Linked DNA regions of Homo sapiens. Changing the gene in region 1 together with any one later gene gives a genetic interaction. Each region holds a gene or a part of one and is shown on either strand. Other genes may lie near its edges.

Region 1 (7,040 bases):
TTCTGTCCTTTGGACTAAGGGCACCTTTGTGAGTGTAAAGTGGTATCTTATGGTGGCTTTGATTCACATTTCCCTAACAATTAATGATGTTGAGCGTCTTTTCATGTGCTTGTTGGCTACTTACATACGTTCTCTGAACATTTTCAAATCCTTTGCTCATTTAAAAAGTTGTTTGTTATTGAGTTTCAGGAGTCCTTTATATATTCTGGATATGAGTCGTGACTATTTTCTCCCATTCCGTTGGTTGTCTTTTTACTTTCTTGATCATGTCTTTCAAAGCACAAAAGCTTGGAATTTTGATAAAGTCCAACTTATCTATTTTTTTCTTTGGTTGTTTGTGCTTTAGGTGTCAAATCTGAGAAATCATTGCTTCATCCAAGGTCACAAAGATTTTCACCTATGTTTTCTTCTAAGATTTTTATATTTTAAATCTTGCATTTGGGACTTTGATCCATTTTGGGTTAATTTTTGTATAAGGCCTGAAGGAGGAATCCAAATTCAGTTCTTTTGCATGTGGACATCTAGTTTTCCCAGCACCATTTGTTAAAAAGACCACTTTTTTCCCCCTGAATCATCTTGGCATCCTCGTTCAAAAAAGAGTCTACTTTATAAATTTAGCCTTATATATTCTAGGCAGCTTTCTATCTGATAAACATACTTATAGCATCTTTAAAAAATAAATATCTATTGAAATATGACAAGCATAAAGGAAAATATAAATATCATGTGTTTAACTTGGTCAGTTTCACAATGTATTTGCATCAATGCAACCACTATTCAGAGTAAAAATAGGAGATTACTGGCACCCCAGAAGTCCCCTTCACTCCTCCCCTAGTCACTACCTCCAACTTTCTCCCCAGTGGTAGCCTCTATCTTGGCTCCTACCTGTAATGCAGTTTTGCCTGCTTTTGAACTTTATAGAAAGGATACCATTCCGTATGCACGCTCTTGCACTCAGCCTGTTTCACCCAACATTATGTCTGTGAGGCTGCAGTTCTCGTGGGGGTACAGTGATTCATTTATTTTCATTGGTTATTAGAACCACAGCATTATTTTTAGTATATTCACTCAACAAAGATTTATTGCATGCCAGGTCCTGTTCTAGGCCTTGGGAGAAGGCAAGGGACAAAGCAAAAATTCCCTGTTCCCTTGGAGCTCATGCTGTCTTGGGTGAGAGACCAACAACAAAGACAATAAATAAGTAGAATACATAATGTGTTGTGTGCAGATAAGCGCTATGGAGAAAAATACAAAATAAAGCAGGAGAGAAGGGATTGGAGGGTGTTGCAGCTGTACACCGAATAGTTAGGGAAGGCCTTGCCGAGAAAGTCATATGGAAGCAAAGACCCAAAGGAGAGGAAGGAGGGAGCCAGGTAGATTTCTAAAGAAAGAGCATTCCAGGCACAGCAAAGGCAAAGGCCTGAGTGTAACTGCAGGTTTGGCATATTTGAGGAACAGCCAGGAGGCCAGTGTAGCTGGAGCAGAGTGAGTAAGATGAGAGTGTAAGAGGTGGGCAGAGAGGGTGCCAGAGGCCAAACAGCAATTGTAAGGACCTTGGCTTTTACTTTGGGATGGGAGCCATCAACAGAAGAGTTTCAGCAGAGGAGTGATAGAATTTGACTTAAAACAGCAACAACGACAACAACAGCAAAACCAACAGACTCACTCTGGCTGCTGGATTGAAGAAGGGCTGTAGATGGAGGCGTGGAGAATGGCCAGGAACTCCTGCTATCACCCAGGTGAGAGATGATGGAGATGTGGACCCAGGTGGTAATGGTGCATATGGCAAAAATGGGCTGCAGCTTGGAAATATTTGAAGGCCAAGCTGAAAAATTTGCTCCCAGATTGGATAGTGGGGCTGAGAGAAGATGGGTCGGGTTAAGTGTTCTAGGTTCAGATGTTCTGTCAGTTTTCTTAATTAATTTTCTGTTACTGGGCATTAGGGAGGTTTCTAGCTTCTCACTGCTGTAGGCAAGATGGTGGTGAACATCCTTGTAGATGGTTCTGTGCGCTGCCCAGAATGAATTTTCTAGGGTAGATTCAGTCCTTCTAATGCAGCATTTTCCAACCTTGGCTGACTGTGCACCACCTGCACAGGTATTTACTTGAAAGCGGTATGGGGTAGTGGTTAGAGCATTCATCTGTGCCAGAGGCCTGGGGCAAATCCCCATCTCTGGTGCCAGAGGAAAGGGGGCATCTCGAGGCTGGGGAGGCCCCTGGCAGGAGTGAGAAGTCCTGAGGAGCCCGGGCTTCAGGTCTCAGAGGGGGCCACTGTTTTTTGAGTACCTTCCTCTCTGTGGGACTCAGTTTCCCCATCTTCACCATGCCAGTGAGTGGGTGGGTGTAAGTGAGCGAGTCTGCCTGGAGGATCCTACTGCTGCTCTCTGCACCTCTTAGGGGAATCTCCTGCCTCCTCCTTCTCCCTTGGTGGGCGTGAGATCAAAGTTCAAATGTGTACCTCAGTTTCTGCATCTATAAGTTAGAGGCAATAATAGTCAATACCCTAGAGGTGGAAGTAACTGAGTTACTGTCTGTAAAGACTAGCACATGGTAAACACTTTCTAGATGCCAGTTATTTTCGTTATTTTTAAAAATTGACTTCACATTTTTTAAAACAACCAAATATGAGTTTCAAAAGGAACATTTACATTAACATGTTAAATGGAAAACCGGTGTCATTTGCTCCGGAGAACAGAAGAATGTAAAATAAAATATATTTAATGGAAACAAAAACAATGCTATTAAAGCTAATTAGATAGTTTCAGAGCCAAGTAATCTAGGCAGTGCTAGAAAGGTACTCAAACCCTATTAGTACTAAACTGAGAAATAAACTCCATTCAACATAAACGGAAAAACTGAAAGGAAAATGAAAAAAAAGAACCTTAAATGACCAGTCCACTCTTACCTAACATGTAACCTGTCACACTCTGGAAAAGTTTTCCTAGTTTTGGCTGTGTGTGCGTGTGTGTGTGTGTGTGTGTTGGGAAGTGAGGCGTGTGTTGGGAAGCGATGTGTGTGTTGGGAAGCGATGTGTGTGTGTTGGGAAGTGGGGTGTGTGTATATTGGGAAGCATGTTTGTGTGTGTTGGGAAGCGGTGTGTGTGTTGGGAAGTGGTGTGTGTGGGGTGTGGTGTGTGTGTGTTGGGAAGTGGTGTGTGTGTGGGGTGTGTGTATGTGCACGTGTGTGTTGGGAAGCAGTGTGTGTGGGGTGTGTGTGTGTTGGGAAAGCAGGGAGTGTAGTGTGTGTTTGTGTTGGAAAGTGGTGTGTGTGTGGGGTGTGTGTGTGTGTGCACGTGTGTGTTGGGAAGCGGTGTGTGTGGGGTGTATGTGTTGGGAAAGCAGGGTGTGTGTGTGTTGGGAAGTGGTGTGTGTGTGAGTGTTGGGAAGCAGGGTGTGTGTGTTGGAAGTAGGGGGTGTATGTGTATCGGGAAGCATGTTTGTGGTGGGGGGAAGCAGGGCGTGTGTGTGTGTGTATGTGAGTGTTGGGAAGCAAGGTATGTGTGTTGGGGGAAGCGAGGGCTGTGTGTGTATTGGGAAGCATGTTTGTGTGTGGGGGGAAGCGAGGGCTGTGTGTGTGTATTGGGAAACATGTTTGCGTGTGGGGGGGAAGCAGGGCGTGTGTGTGTGTTGCGAAGCGGTGTGTGTGTGGTGTGTGTGTGTGCGCGTGTGTGCTGGGAAGCGGTGTGTGTGGTGTGTGGTGTGTGTGTGTGTGTATGTGTATGTGTTGGGAAGCGGGTTGTTCCGAGGACTCCCCGATTCCCTCCTGGTTGAAACGTGGCCCAGAAAGAGAGGCACACTGGCTAGGGCACACAGCCAGGGCCGTCCAGCCCCGCAGGAAGCCCCGGTCCTGCCCTGTCCCAGGTAAGCCTGGCCAGCCCTGGAGCCGGCGCTGCGGGGCTGCGGGGCTGCGGGGCTGCGGGGCCACGGGACAGGAGCGGGTGCTGCGGTCCCGGCAGAGCAGGGGCGGGGTCCGGGCGGGGGCGGAGCCGAGCGCCCGCGCACCCGGAGCCGCAGCCCGAGCCGGAGCCGGAGCCGGGAGTCGTGGCCCGGAGTGGGCCTTGGAGTCGGCGCGCAGGCGGCTCGCGGTGAGTGCTGTGCCCAGCGCCTGGGGGTGGGCTGGGGGGAGACTGTGGGCGCCGAGGGTCCCACCCCCGGGACTTGAACACTTGGCTTCTGAGCCGTCCTGGCCGCAGGGCTTGGGCAAGGGTTGCCTCGGTTTCTCCTGGGGGAGTCCCAGAATGTAGATGGGAAGTGAGACGGAAAGGGGGCATCTCGAGGTTGGGGAGGCCCCTGGGCCACTCTTTTGATTTCCTTCCTCTCTGTGGGACTCAGTTTCCCCAGCTTCACCATGCCAGTGAGTGGGTGGGTATAAGTGAGAGAGTCTGCCTGGAGGATCCTGCTGCTGCTCTCTGTACCTCTTATGGGAATCTCCTGCCTCCTCCTTCTCCCTTGTTGGGTGTGAGATCTAAGTTCAAATCCATCCCTTCCCAGACAGCCCACACCAGGACCTGCGAGGCCACATCCCCCAGCTGTTTGCTCTCCTATGCTTCTCAGGTTGATGGAGCAGCCATCTGGTCCTGCTTTCATTCCAACAAACTGAAAAGCCCTCCACCCCAATCCCCCTGGGGAGGACCTCCTGAAGCTGCATGAGGGCTGGGGGCTGGACCCCTGCTTCTGAGTTTGCTCTTTCTGAGCCTCTCCTGCCATGGCCTTGGTTTCCCCATGGGCTGTGACCTAGCCTCCTCCAGGGTCCTTGTTCTACAGAGGGGAAACACCTGCCCTGTCACCCTCCCCTGACCCCTTAGTGAAAAAGACCAGAGTGACATCCCCACCACCTGTACTTGCCTGTCCCGATCACTCAGCCATGGGGCTGCTGGGGCCCCTGAGTTTGTTGGCTGCTCAAGGCCCCTTTGCCTCGCTGCACCCTGGGATCTGAGGCTGGAAGCATCCTCATCCAGCCCACCTCCCTCCTACCCAGTGCAGAGCCCCTCTGTGACACATGCCCAGTGGTGGGGAGCTTATTACTGATGAGGTGGCTTTTTAGTGCCTTGCAGCTCTTGTTTCCTTTAGCTAAAATCTGTGGCTTACAGATTCTACACCTTGGTTCCATGTCTGTCTCCCGGAGCCATGCAGAGCAAGTCAGTTCTTTCATTCTTTCCAGCAGTCATCATTCATGCACTGGATGAGACACGAGACAGAGCAGTAGGAAAATCAGACAAAACCCCCTGCCCTCATGGAGTGCACACTCTAGAAAGGAATGGACAGCAATGAAATAAGTAAATACATGGCGTAGCAGGTGGCGGGAAGTACTACGAGTAAAACAAAGCTGGGAAGCAGGATGGGGTGCTGGGGCTGGGTATTGCATTGTATATAGCACAACCAGGGAAGGCTTCCCCAAGACCACGATAGCTGGGCAAAGTCATAAGGAATTGAGGGGTGAGCCACATGAGTATCTGGGGGGCTGGGAGGCTTTGGTTTTCACTCTGAGCATGATGGGAGCACGGGTTTGGAACAGAGGAGTCACCTGCTTTGACTTGGGGTCTGGCAGGCCCATCTAGCTGTGGGGTGGAGAATGGATCATGGGGGGGGTGGGGTAAGGGCAGAAGGAGAGCCCGTTGAGCGGATCATTGCTGTCATTCTCGGGAGAGACCATGGTGTCTTGCCCATGGCCCAGAGGTGGTTAAAAAAAAGAAAACCAGACATTCAGATTTGGGATATATTTCAAAGGCCGTGTCGATAGGGTTTGGGGTGCAAGAGAAAGGTAGAGTCAAAGATGATTCTGAGTGTTTGGCTCGAGCTTCTGGAGGTTTGAAGCTGCCATGAACTGAAATGGGAGTTGCTTAGCGGAGAGATCAAGAGTTTGGTTTTGTGCTTGTGGAGTTTGAGCTGCCCATTAGGCATCAATGATGAGTAAGCAGTTGGGAAAAGTTAAGGGCGGAGGTTGGAGTTGAAAATAAAACTTTGGGCATCATCACCATATAACTGGTATTTAAAGCCACAAGAGCAGGTGGGCTCATCTAGGGATGGAGTGATATGGAGAAGAGAAGGGGTCTAACCATTGAGTGCTGGGGCCCCCAGTGTTAGGAACCAGCCAAGAAGACAGAAAGAGTGAAAATCAGAGAGTTGGGGTGTCCTGGAGGAAATGAAGAAAATGCCCCAAAGAGGAAGGAGGGAACAAATATGACCAATGCCCCTGGCAGAGCAAGCAGGCTGAGGGCTGAGGATTGAGCAATGGGAGGTCACTGGTGACAGTTTCACTGGAGCTGGATGGGGAACTAGAGGGAATGGGAGGGGATGGGAGGACTTGGGGACAGCAGTACAGGCAACAGACAAGGGGGCCTGCTGTAAAGGGAGCAGATAAATGGGATTGGAGCCAAATGAAGAAGGGGAGTGTCAAGAGAGTGCTTTACTTTTACAATGGAGAATTAGAGTGCATTGTGCACTGGTGGGGGGATTTGATCTCTTAGGGAGAGAACAGTGTTAGGGAGGGAGAATGCAGGATAGCTGGGGGAGGGTGGGGGGCTTGGCCCCAGCAGAGACTCAGGACACTTGGGAAGTTGAGCTTCCCTGGGCTTCCCCTCCTCTCCTGTCTGCAAGGGGTCAGTGGGCTGAGATTTCAGCACTTAAGCAAAGCATTTGCTCTTGGCCCCAGAGAAACCGGGCTGGCTGTGGTCTCAGGAAGGAAGGAGGTGTCCAGGCTCAGGCCTGGGCCTGGGTTTCAGGGAGGGCCCACGTGGGTCGCCCCTTGACCCTCTCTTTCAGCAAGGAAGTGATCCTTTCTCTACATGGGCCTCACCTTGGGGAGGACAATGGTGTCTTTGAAGTTGTAGTAACTGAAGTAGAGATCAAAAGGCAATGCAGATAGACTGACAGATTTCGCCTGAAGAGGGGAAGCCCGACCAGGTAATAAAGGAGTAAGAGGAAGGATGTTAAGGACAATTTTAGGAAACAGATAATGAGTGAATATTTTTTCTCTCTCTTTCCCAATTTAAACTGAAGCAGGAGAAACTGAAGCTAGACATAATGATTAACTTCCCAAGC
Region 2 (3,570 bases), on another chromosome or scaffold:
AAACAGAAACGTATTTGGATTTTTCCTAGTAAGATCACTCAGTGTTACTAAATAATGAAGTTGTTATGGAGAACAAATTTCAAAGACACAGTTAGTGTAGTTACTATTTTTTTAAGTGTGTATTAAAACTTCTCATTCTATTCTCTTTATCTTTTAAGCCCTTCTGTACTGTCCATGTATGTTATCTTTCTGTGATAACTTCATAGATTGCCTTCTAGTTCATGAATTCTCTTGTCAGATGTATATAATCTCTTTTACCCTATCCATTGGGCTTCTTCTTTCAGAAATTGTTTTTCATTTCTAATTATGCATCATTTTTCAGATCTCTGTTTCTTGATGTCATTTTTAATGTTTTTTTAATGTTTTTTATGTCACTAATTATTTTAAATGTCTGTACTTGATAGACACTGTAATAGTTCTATTAAATTTAGTTCCTGCTGTTTATATCTGTTGATTTTTGTATTTGATAGGCTGTTCATCCAGTTTTGTCTTTTTGAAAAGTGAGTTTATTTTCAGCAAGGCTTTATCTATGGGAATCTTGAGTGTCTGTTTATGTCATATTCCCAGGGCTGTTGCTGCACACAAGCCCATTCTTATTTTAATTTCTTGGCTTTAGGGTTTCCATACCTGAAGTGTAGCATAAATACTGATAGGAGATTTCCCAGGCCAAGGCAAACACACTTCCTCCTCATCTCCTTGTGCTAGTGGGCAGAATATTTGATTGATGCCTTTTTCACTGAGAGTATAAGCTTCCATGTGTCCCACCTTTATGGCAGGGGTGGAAGGAGGTACATTTAATTCCCACTGCCTGCCTTTGGCAAGCCCTGGGTTCTTTGCTCCCCATATAGATGTCTAAGCTAAAAGCCGTGGGTTAATGAGACTGGCAAATTGTTCCAGGACAGCTACAGCATCAGCTCACATATTCACCTCTCTGGTTTTTCATTCCCCTCATTTTTTTCTGAGACAGAGTCTTGCTCTGTCACCCAGGCTGGAGTGCAGTGGCATGATCTCAGCTCACTGAAACCTCTGCCTCCTGGGTTCAAGCAATTCTCCTGCCTCAGCCTCCCGAGTAGCTGGGACTACAGGCGTGTGCCAACACGCCCGGCTAATTTTTTGTATTTTTATTAGAGACGGAGTTTCACCGTGTTAGCCAGGATGGTCTCGATCGCTTGACCTCGTGATCCACCCTCCTCGGCCTCCCAAAGTGCTGGGATTACAGGTGTGAGCCACCGCGCCCGGCCTCATTCCCCTCATTTTTGACCGTAAGGATTTCCCCTTTCTTGTAAGTTCTGCTATGTATTTAAAAGAATGTTTTCTACATTTTATCCAGCATTTCTCTGTGTTCTGTTGGAAGGGAAGGGCTTAGGTATCTAGTTTGATACATAGGTAGAAGTGGAACATTTCTCTGTCCCCCAGCTGTCATCATATAAGATAAACATCAGATAAAAAGCCACCTGAAAGTAAAACTACTGACTCGTGTATTAGTGAGTATAATCTCTTCTCCATCCTTAGGAAAATGTTCATCCCAGCTGCGGAGATTAACAAATGGGTGATTGAGCTTTCTCCTCGTATTTGGACCTTGAAGGTTATATAAATTTTTTTCTTATGAAGAGTTGGCATTTCTTTTTATTGCCAATGGCAGGCACTCATTCATATTTGATCTCCTCACCTTCCCCTCCCCTAAAACCAATCTCCAGAACTTTTTGGACTATAAATTTCTTGGTTTGACTTCTGGAGAACTGTTCAGAATATTACTTTGCATTTCAAATTACAAACTTACCTTGGTGTATCTTTTTCTTACAAGCTGCCTAAATGAATATTTGGTATATATTGGTAGTTTTATTACTATAGTAAATCAAGGAAATGCAGTAAACTTAAAATGTCTTTAAGAAAGCCCTGAAATCTTCATGGGTGAAATTAGAAATTATCAACTAGATAATAGTATAGATAAATGAATTTGTAGCTAATTCTTGCTAGTTGTTGCATCCAGAGAGCTTTGAATAACATCATTAATCTACTCTTTAGCCTTGCATGGTATGCTATGAGGCTCCTGTTCTGTTCAAGTATTCTAATCAATGGCTTTGAAAAGTTTATCAAATTTACATACAGATCACAAGCCTAGGAGAAATAACTAATTCACAGATGACAGAATTAAGATTATAAAAGATTTTTTTTTTGTAATTTTAGTAGAGACAGGGTTGCCATTGTATTCCAGCCTTGGCGACAGAGCAAGACTCTGCCTCAAAAAAAAAAAAAAAAAGGTTTTGGCAAGCTGGAACTCTTTCTGCAAATGACTAAGATAGAAAACTGCCAAGGACAAATGAGGAGTAGTTAGATTTTGAAAATATTAATCATAGAATAGTTGTTGTATGCTAAGTCACTGACCCATATTATGTACAGCATTTCTGATCTTTACTTTGCAAGATTAGTGATACTATCCCAATACACTGCTGGAGAAATCAGAATTTGGAGAAATAAGTTGTCCAAGGCAAGAAGATAGTAAATTATAAGTACAAGTGTAATATGGACAGTATCTAACTTGAAAAGATTTCAGGCGAAAAGAATCTGGGGTTTGCCAGTCAGTTGCTCAAAAGGTCAATGAAAACCAAATAGTGAAGCTATCAGAGAAGCTAATAAATTATAGACTGCTTGAACAGTTGTGTCCAGATTAAGGGAGATAATAGCTTTCCCACCCTACTTTGTGCAGGTCATACCTCCCCAAAGTGTTTACCTAATCAGTAGGTTCACAAACTCTTGGTCATTATAGTATATGCCTAAAATGTATGCACTTAGGAATGCTAAAAATTTAAATATGGTCTAAAGCAAATAAAAGCAAAGAGGAAAAACTTTGGACAGCGTAAAGACTAGAATAGTCTTTTAAAAAGAAAGCCAGTATATTGGTTTGAAATATAGAGATGTGTCCCAATTTCAAGTATTTTAATTGCACCTTAATGAAATTATCTATTTTCTATAGATTTTAGTACTATTGAATGTATTACTTTACTGTTACCTGAATTTATTATAAAGTGTTTTTGAATAAATAATTCTAAAAGCATATACTAAGACTCATTCACTTTATTCAAATATTTGTGTGTTCTGTGTGCCAGGCATGGGACTCGTTCTAAGGAGAAAGCAGTGAGCAAGGCAGGCATAGTCTGCCTATATAAAGCTCCCAATCTGAGGAGGATAGGCAACTGACCACGCAGTGTGAACCGGGGAGCCTATTGCACAACCAGTCTGATAATGCTGCATCTCAGTCTAAATATCCTAGTAGTGTTTCTTAGTCGCCTCCTGACGAAAAGGCAAATATGAATGTTCTTTCTTTGGGCCTAGAAAGTGATCTAGTTGACATTTCTAGCCTAAAAGATCTGTACTAGAATATGACAAGTGCAAAGATCCTGGTATCCTAAATGCAAAGTTTTTTACCTGTTTATCATATTTTTAAAATAAATTCAGTCCTCTGGAGTTTTAGTCTCTTTTGCCTAGATTTTAACAAAATGCATTTTGCATAAATATAGTGGAGTCAAAGTTTCCACAAAGATTATAATGACTCAGAATTTGGTAAGTAAG
Region 3 (7,940 bases), on another chromosome or scaffold:
GGATCTCTTGAGGTCAGGAGTTCGAGACCAGCTTGGCCAATATGATGAAACCCCATCTCTACTAAAAATTAGCCAGGCATGGTGGCGGATGCCTGTAATCCCAGCTACTTGGGAGATTGAGGTGGGAGAGTTGCTTGAACTGAGGAGGTGGAGGTTGCAGTGAGCTGAGATTGCACCACTGCCCTCCAGCTTGGGTGACAGAGCGAGACTCCGTCTCAAAAAAAACAAAAACAAAAACAAAACAAAAGGAGGAGAGTTTGTTATGGCTACAACCAAAAATATACAGGGAACTCTTACAAATCAACAACAGAAAAAGAGCAAAGCCCGCTAGAAAAATGAGTGACTAATGTAAGTAACCAATGTATAAAAGGTGGAAACCCGAGTGGCTACTAGTGTATGAAGAAAAATGTAAATTAAAACAGTAACAAGATAGATACCATTTTAAACCTCCAAAGCCTGGCCAAGTTAAAGCTGGATCATACGAAGTGTGGAGGGGGATTTAAGGAAACAGAGGAAGCTTTATTTGCTGGTGTGAGAGTAGATTAACACTCTTTCTGGAGAGCAATCTGGCAATATTTAGTAAATGCTAATAAACTTATCCTTATGACTTAGTGGACATACTTCAAAAATTATGTCAAAAATACTCTCAAAAAATACCATAAAAATGACTTGGTTAAGGGTGTTTAGAGCTACAATGTCTGTGGTCTGGGCAATTGGAGGCAGTTCAGGTGCCCACTGTTGGAGAATGAATAAGTAAGATGTGGTCGGTACACACTCTGGAATGTCACATTACAAGCAGAGGCTACACAAAGAAACATGGACAGATGGTAAGACATCATGCTCAGTAAAAAGGTAAGAAAGAGAGCCATTCCTGTAAAATAAAAATACCTACACACACTAAACAACACTTCTTTTTGCACAGGGATGCATCGATATTCAGAAATACACATGAAACATTAGAGCCATGACCTATGGCAATGGTAGAGGTGGTGGTAGGTGTTTAGTGGGGAGGGAAGGAGAATGATGAGGGTAGGATCACACCCACGCACGTGTGCACACACACACACAGAAACTTGTATGGAACAATGATCATGTGCACTGGACTGAAGAGTATGATGAGTACAAATCTTTTTACCTGTGATACCAGAAGTCTTCTTTCTTCTAGGGAGATTTGTGTCTTAAAGAATGCATTTCCAGTCATGGATTTTCTAGCATCAGTCAATGAGTTGGGAAACTATTTTATGTATGTGATCAATGAATATTTATTTTGCCACTATATGCCAGGCACTGTTCCATGTGCTAGGCACAGTATAGTGAATGAGACAGCCAAAGCCTACTTCTGGTTGAGGATTCTGATTAGTCCTTCTTGGCATTAGATCAGGTAAATTGTTACATATTCCAAATCAACCATGGGTATGGTCTGTCTGGGACCTGGGAGGTGGGCTTTGGGGTTGCTCTTCATCTGCGGTGGCTTTGGGAGAGACTTGAAAATTCACAAGGAAACAACTGCAGAAAAGGCCCATTATAATCTGAAAGTATTTAGCATACATATGTCTCTGGTTGCTGTTTTCACAGGATCACCTTTTTGTTATACCCACAATCTCTTCCATTTTTTTTTTTGAGACAGAATCTTGCTCTATCACCCAGACTATAGCACAGTGCGGTGATGTTGTCTCACTGCAACCTCAGCCTCCTGGGTTCAAGCGATTCTCCCACCTTAGCCTCCCGAGTAGCTGGGACTATAGGTGCACCACCACCCCCGGCTAATTTTTGTATTTTTAGTAGAGACAGGGTTTCACCATGTTGGCCAGACTAGTCTCAAACTCCTGACCTCAGGTGATCTGCCCACCTCAGCCTCCCAAAGTGCTGGGATTATAGGCGTGAGCCACTGCGCCCAGCCTCACAATCTCTTCTAATAGCAAATATTTCTGAGACTCCTAGTATGACTGTTCAGAAACCCCCATACAACACCAGAGCAGATTTTCCCTTTAGTGAGTTTTAGTTAAACTCATTGAAACTTAAGATCTAGGCTCCATTAACACTATCTTCTTGATGCTTGGTCCATCAGGGGCATACAATGAATAAGAGACACACTGCTGCTCTTAAAGAGGGCTTTGCAATTTTCTGACATTCTCTTTCTGTTTCACAGTGATTTATTTTCTATTCAGGAACAATAAGCTGGTAAGCAGGACTGGGTCAAACATCAACTTTAGAAATACCGTAAAGGCTGTCAATATGCTTTTATTGAGTCCTTCCTATGTGTGTAGCACTGTTCTAAGTGTTGGAGTCACAAAGACGAAAGAGACAGAGACTCTTCCCTCGAAAGCATGTAATTCAACGATGTCAAAACTTATTTTCCCGTGGAAAGAAAATTATGTATGCTGGTCAGTTTCCCAGGCAAACCCACAAAAGCCTATTTAATCGATGAATAGCTTAAATCTAGTGCTAATAGAATTATACGGAGTTCTGGGCAAAAATGGCCATATATAATAGGAAACTGAATAAGGAAGAGTTTCATCATCTTTTCTTGGGCCCATGGTCAACCCCAAGGAAACATTTGGAACACACCTATTTTTTTTCAATTCAGAAAAAAAATCTTATTTTTATTTGACAAATAAAAATTATATATACAGTATTTATGTTACACAATATGATGTTTTAAAAATTACTTATTTTTTAAATTGATGCATTATAATTGTACATATCTATGGAGTATAATTTGATGTTTTGATATAAGTGTATGCTGTATGATACAATTAGGTTAGTTAGTGTATCCATCACCTCATGCATTTATCATTACTTTGTGGTGAGAATCTTCAAAAGCCTCTCTTCTAGCTATTTTGTAAAATACAATATTTTCCTGTTAAATACAGTCATTCTACTGTGTAATAGAACACCGAAATTATTCCTTCTAATTGTATCGTTGTACCCGTTGACCAACCTCTCCCCATCCTCCTTTCCCCACTTACTCCCCCAGTCTCTGGTAAACCACTGTTATATTCTCTGCTTCTATATCAACTTTATTATTATCATTATTATTTTTTAGATTCCACATATCAGTGAGATCATGCAGTATTTGTTTTTCCGCATCTGATTTATTTCACTTAACATGGTGTCCTTCAGGTTCATTCACGTTATTGCAAATGACAGGATTACATTTCTTTTATGGCTGAATAGTATTCCATTGTGTATATATACCACATTTTCTTTATCCATTCATCCATCCATCTGTGGATACTTAGGTTGATTTCATATATGTTTTGATATACGCATGCATTGTGGAATGGCTAAATTGAGTGAATTAACATATATGCATTACCTCACATACTTGAAATTTTTTTTTGTAATGAGAACATTTACAATCTATGCTCTTTGTGATTTTTAAGCATACGATATATTGTTCTTAACTATCATCACCATGATGGACAATAGAGCTCTTCAACTTATTCCTCTTCTTTAACTGAAATGTTGTATCCTTTGGGTAACATCTCCCCATCTCGCTGCCCCTTGCCCACCCAGCCCCTGGCAACCACCATTCTACTCTTTCCTTCTATGAGTTCAAGTGTTTTAGATTCCACATGCAAGTGTGATCATGTGGTGTTTTTTACTCTCACTAATCTTCATTTTTGCTTCTTTCTCCTCTGGCCACCTTCACAAATGCTCAGTGTCCTCATGTGGTTCCGACCCTTTGCAGTGGCACCTTGCTTAGGTCTGTGCCATCTCAAAAAGTGGTCTAGGTTTTACAATTATTTACATCCCTACTTCCAGTTCTTCAACACTCCTGATCTTAACTAGTTGTGAGGAGAAAAATCTGATTATACAAATTTGCACTAATTCACATTCCTTCCCTCAGCAATAGGTATTTGCATTTTGATACTTGCATTTGCTTCCTTGCTCTGCGGGAGAATTTCCAGTCTAGTTTTAGGTGTATTTTTAAATAATTTGAAGGTAACGCGGAACCTCTATATTCCTATATTCCCTTCTTCAGACATCCATGTGTGTGTGTGTATATATGTATATATATAAAATGTTGCATATATATGTATATATATAGTATACACACATATATAATATATATACACACACATATATAGTTGTTATAGGATTATTTGGAAATATTATGTTGAGACTTGTGTGAAGTGTAGAATTAGGTAAAATTTTAAGATGAACTATATCCATGGTATTCTTTTATTTTAAAAAAAGTTTACATGTTAAGAAAAAAGGAGATCAGATTTTCAGCATTAGTATTTACAAACTTAAGTTGATATTGATTATAATTCAATTAATACAATTTTAAGATATATTTACTTCTGCCTTAATTGTTATGATCACTTAAAAATAGTTCCAAAAAGGGAAGAAAACAATAATTAGATTAGCCAAGACAGTTATTTTTGAAACATAAGTCTGGTTTAGAATTCAGCATGTTTAAAAATGAGATAAAATTATTTTAATAATGGAATGATCTGTTAGCTGTCATTACCATTTACTTTAAAGCAGAGGATATAGGACATGGGTCCTTTTTTTCTGATCACCTCCAATGAGATAAGAATCTATAAAGCTGGTAGGAAAATGAGTCCGTGACCAAAATGCTTACTCAGCCACTATAGGAGATCAAAACATTTTATACTAAATCTGAACTCTACTAAGACAAAACAATTGTGTTCTTTGAAAAATATGTAGGGTTTAGAAAATTTCTGGGATTTGTCTGTAAAATACCCTCCGGGCTCTAATAGTGACGTTTTAGGGAAACACTTGCATCTCAAGGTGGAAAGGATAGAGGTGGTGTTTTGTGGGCTCCTGTGGTGGTTAGGTCGTTCTCAGAAGACAGTACTGGAAATTAGATAATTGCTGATGTCATATTTTTCACAATTAAAAAAAAGTCAGTATCCTGGGGGCTATAAAAGCAGCAGCTTCTACCTTCCCCGTCACAAGCAGAATCTTCAGAACAGGTAAGCGTTTCGGCAAACTTGGTACAATTGGTTAGTTTGATGAAATACTTCTTGACTAATTTTGTTCCTTCACGTTGTCTTCGACCAGGTTCTCCTTCCCCAGTCACCAGTTGCTCGAGTTAGAATTGTCTGCAATGGCCGCCCTGCAGAAATCTGTGAGCTCTTTCCTTATGGGGACCCTGGCCACCAGCTGCCTCCTTCTCTTGGCCCTCTTGGTACAGGGAGGAGCAGCTGCGCCCATCAGCTCCCACTGCAGGCTTGACAAGTCCAACTTCCAGCAGCCCTATATCACCAACCGCACCTTCATGCTGGCTAAGGAGGTATACATCTCAATCCTGCTCTTTCTCGTTGGATCTACTTGGAATCCAAATAGTTCTTAAACTTTTCTTCAGAGCATCTCTAAGAGCTTTAGGAACCCACTGTTTATCCCTGAGGGTAGATAAATTTTCTGTTTTTTCAGAGACTCTTTGGGAATCTGGCTTTTTTTTTTTTCTTGAACTTCTTCCTTCCATTTTGGCCTTTATGATACATATGATGAATTTTTCCCAAAGAGCGGCCATTCAGTAATCCATCTGATGATTTTTTTTTTCCTTTATGCCTCTGTGCATTGTTCTAAACTCATGCACACATCTGAATTCTGCTTTTAGTCTTTATGATGTTGCTCTGGGGAGACGGGATGGGGCACATGTCTATGTATAAATTTTTTTTCTATTTGCTCAATGTCCAGACCCTTAGTCTTTTCTTCTCTTCCAGGCTAGCTTGGCTGATAACAACACAGACGTTCGTCTCATTGGGGAGAAACTGTTCCACGGAGTCAGTGTAAGCTACAGTTGTGACGAACAGGGCCGTGTGCCGTCCATGGGTACTTGGGGTGGTGGTGATGATGGTTTAGGTCTTATCCCTTATGACCCTTTCTGTTTCCCTTCCACCTGCAGATGAGTGAGCGCTGCTATCTGATGAAGCAGGTGCTGAACTTCACCCTTGAAGAAGTGCTGTTCCCTCAATCTGATAGGTTCCAGCCTTATATGCAGGAGGTGGTGCCCTTCCTGGCCAGGCTCAGCAACAGGCTAAGCACATGTGTAAGTTCAGCTCTCAGCCTATGCCCACCTACCCCTCCTTCCCTCCTTCCACAGAGACCCCCTTACCCCAACTCTCTCTCCTTCCCCCTACCCCTAAGCTAGCAGGAAGAAGTGTCTTGGCAGCAGTGTTATCAGGAGTCATTTGGGATCATAGAGTATTTGCTTTTGCTTTGACTGAGTCACATCTTGAGTTTATAGTGGTGAATGGGGTCTGGAACTTAAGTGTACAGAAGCCGCATTGGTTTGTCTTCGGAAAAAAGGCAACTCAGGTTGCGTAAGATGAGAAAGGTGTTGGGAAAAACATCTAGATGTGGAAATGGATCCATTGAGTCTAAGTTGTTGAGGGGAGGGGATGGCATGGAGAGAAATTAGAAGAGAAAGTGGGAAATGGGAAGGCTTAAAGTCGGTGGTGGGTCGGCAGACTGTTGCCCTGTTGATGTCATGGGAAGCCACAAAATCGGAGGCGTGTGAACTTGATGCCGCTGAACATTTGAAACTATGAAAAAAAGTTTGAGTGGAGTGGGCCCAGTAAAAGGCCCTAGGACTTACTGAAGAGGGCTTAATTTTCACATGAGATGTTTTATGTACATTTCTTGTTCTAAGCATGCAATTTTCTGGAGATACGATTGAGGTTTTATTCCTTACAGAATTTGCATAAACTACTCCGCTCTTTCCACAAATGCAAACCTCAGTAGGATTTCCCAAAGATGAAGAGAGGTCTCTTGTAAGGGAAGTGACTGGATTCTGGCGTCCAAGGGAATTCAAGAGCTCAGGAAATCTAGGTCACTGTTGAAATCTAGGTCATTGTGGGCAAAATTACTAAGAGCTTTAATTCCAGGTGAATTGTACTGTACCTCCATGGGTGTGGAGGTTCATAAAGTTTCAGCACAACATTAAGATAGTTATGCTTGTTATTGTTTTATAGCATATTGAAGGTGATGACCTGCATATCCAGAGGAATGTGCAAAAGCTGAAGGACACAGTGAAAAAGGTAGGACTGATAACTGTCAATGCTAAGTCATGCAATAGGAGAGACAAATGTTGTTTTTCTTTCCTTTCTTTCTTCCCATCACTTTGTGATTTTTCACTTGATTCTCCTACCACCAGGGCGATTACTTTGGTGTCTGTGTATGTAGATATATCTATATATCTAGATGTCAGTTTCCAAATCTTGCAAATTGTAGAATTCTAGAACTGGTTGGGATCTTAGCTTGTCTAGTCACATAACCTCAGATTCTGGGGATGGTCAGTGGCAGAGATAGGGCTAGAATGCAGGTCTCCTGAATCCCAAGCCAGCACTTTTCCCGGTGGTGATACAGATTAGTTTTGGTACCATTAATTCTTAGGGAAATTTCAGATTCCTATTGACTCATGTAATCTGAAGAAGTACTTGTTTAAAAACAGAAAAATGCCTATGGGCAAATTTATTTGAAGTCATTTTTGAAGTCATTAATGCATTGCTTTGAAACTTGGAAGAATAAACTCAGAACAATGAGAAAAGAGCTGGACTTGCATATAGGGCTAATTTCTGGAGTAATAAACACTTATTTTGAATTATCATAATATCTATCAGATATTGATTATAGTTTAAAAGCAAGAGCAGACAACCCCGATCTCTTTTATACAGGTTCAAATAGAGTAAAAATATTAGTAAGAGATTTATTAAAGTTAAATGGAAGTCTGAATTGGTAAGCTTTTTTTTCTTCCTCTCTCCCATCAAGACCTTCCATTCTAGTTTCTTCCTTCACTCCCTCAACAAATCCCTAGGGAGCATTTATCCATGGTGGGCTGGTGTACATTTCTATAGTGAATGATACCATCATGTGGCCTATTTGGTGAAAAGAACAACAATGGAAGGCTTAGACTAACAATAGTGACTCACCCCAAAACCGGAGGAATGATTAGGAGCAGT

The links. Genes that interact genetically often act in the same process or in processes that back each other up.
Region 2: changes in NOD2 (region 1) and ATM together harm fitness more than expected from each alone (negative genetic interaction), as found in Homo sapiens cells (one study listed by BioGRID).
Region 3: changes in NOD2 (region 1) and IL22 together harm fitness more than expected from each alone (negative genetic interaction), as found in Homo sapiens cells (one study listed by BioGRID).

What each region holds. Positions count from the first base shown.
Region 1 is NC_000016.10:50,689,579-50,696,618, forward strand, and holds the start of NOD2 (nucleotide-binding oligomerization domain-containing protein 2), read left to right. Parts: upstream 1-4,027; 5' UTR 4,028-4,084; intron 4,085-7,040. UniProt on the Homo sapiens protein: Pattern recognition receptor (PRR) that detects bacterial peptidoglycan fragments and other danger signals and plays an important role in gastrointestinal immunity.
Region 2 is NC_000011.10:108,366,046-108,369,615, forward strand, and holds the end of ATM (serine-protein kinase ATM), read left to right. Parts: 3' UTR 1-3,057; downstream 3,058-3,570.
Region 3 is NC_000012.12:68,250,592-68,258,531, reverse strand, and holds the start of IL22 (interleukin-22 precursor), read left to right. Parts: upstream 1-4,927; 5' UTR 4,928-4,949; intron 4,950-5,037; 5' UTR 5,038-5,083; coding exon 5,084-5,269; intron 5,270-5,702; coding exon 5,703-5,768; intron 5,769-5,884; coding exon 5,885-6,028; intron 6,029-6,953; coding exon 6,954-7,019; intron 7,020-7,940. UniProt on the Homo sapiens protein: Cytokine that plays a critical role in modulating tissue responses during inflammation. Plays an essential role in the regeneration of epithelial cells to maintain barrier function after injury and for the prevention of further tissue damage.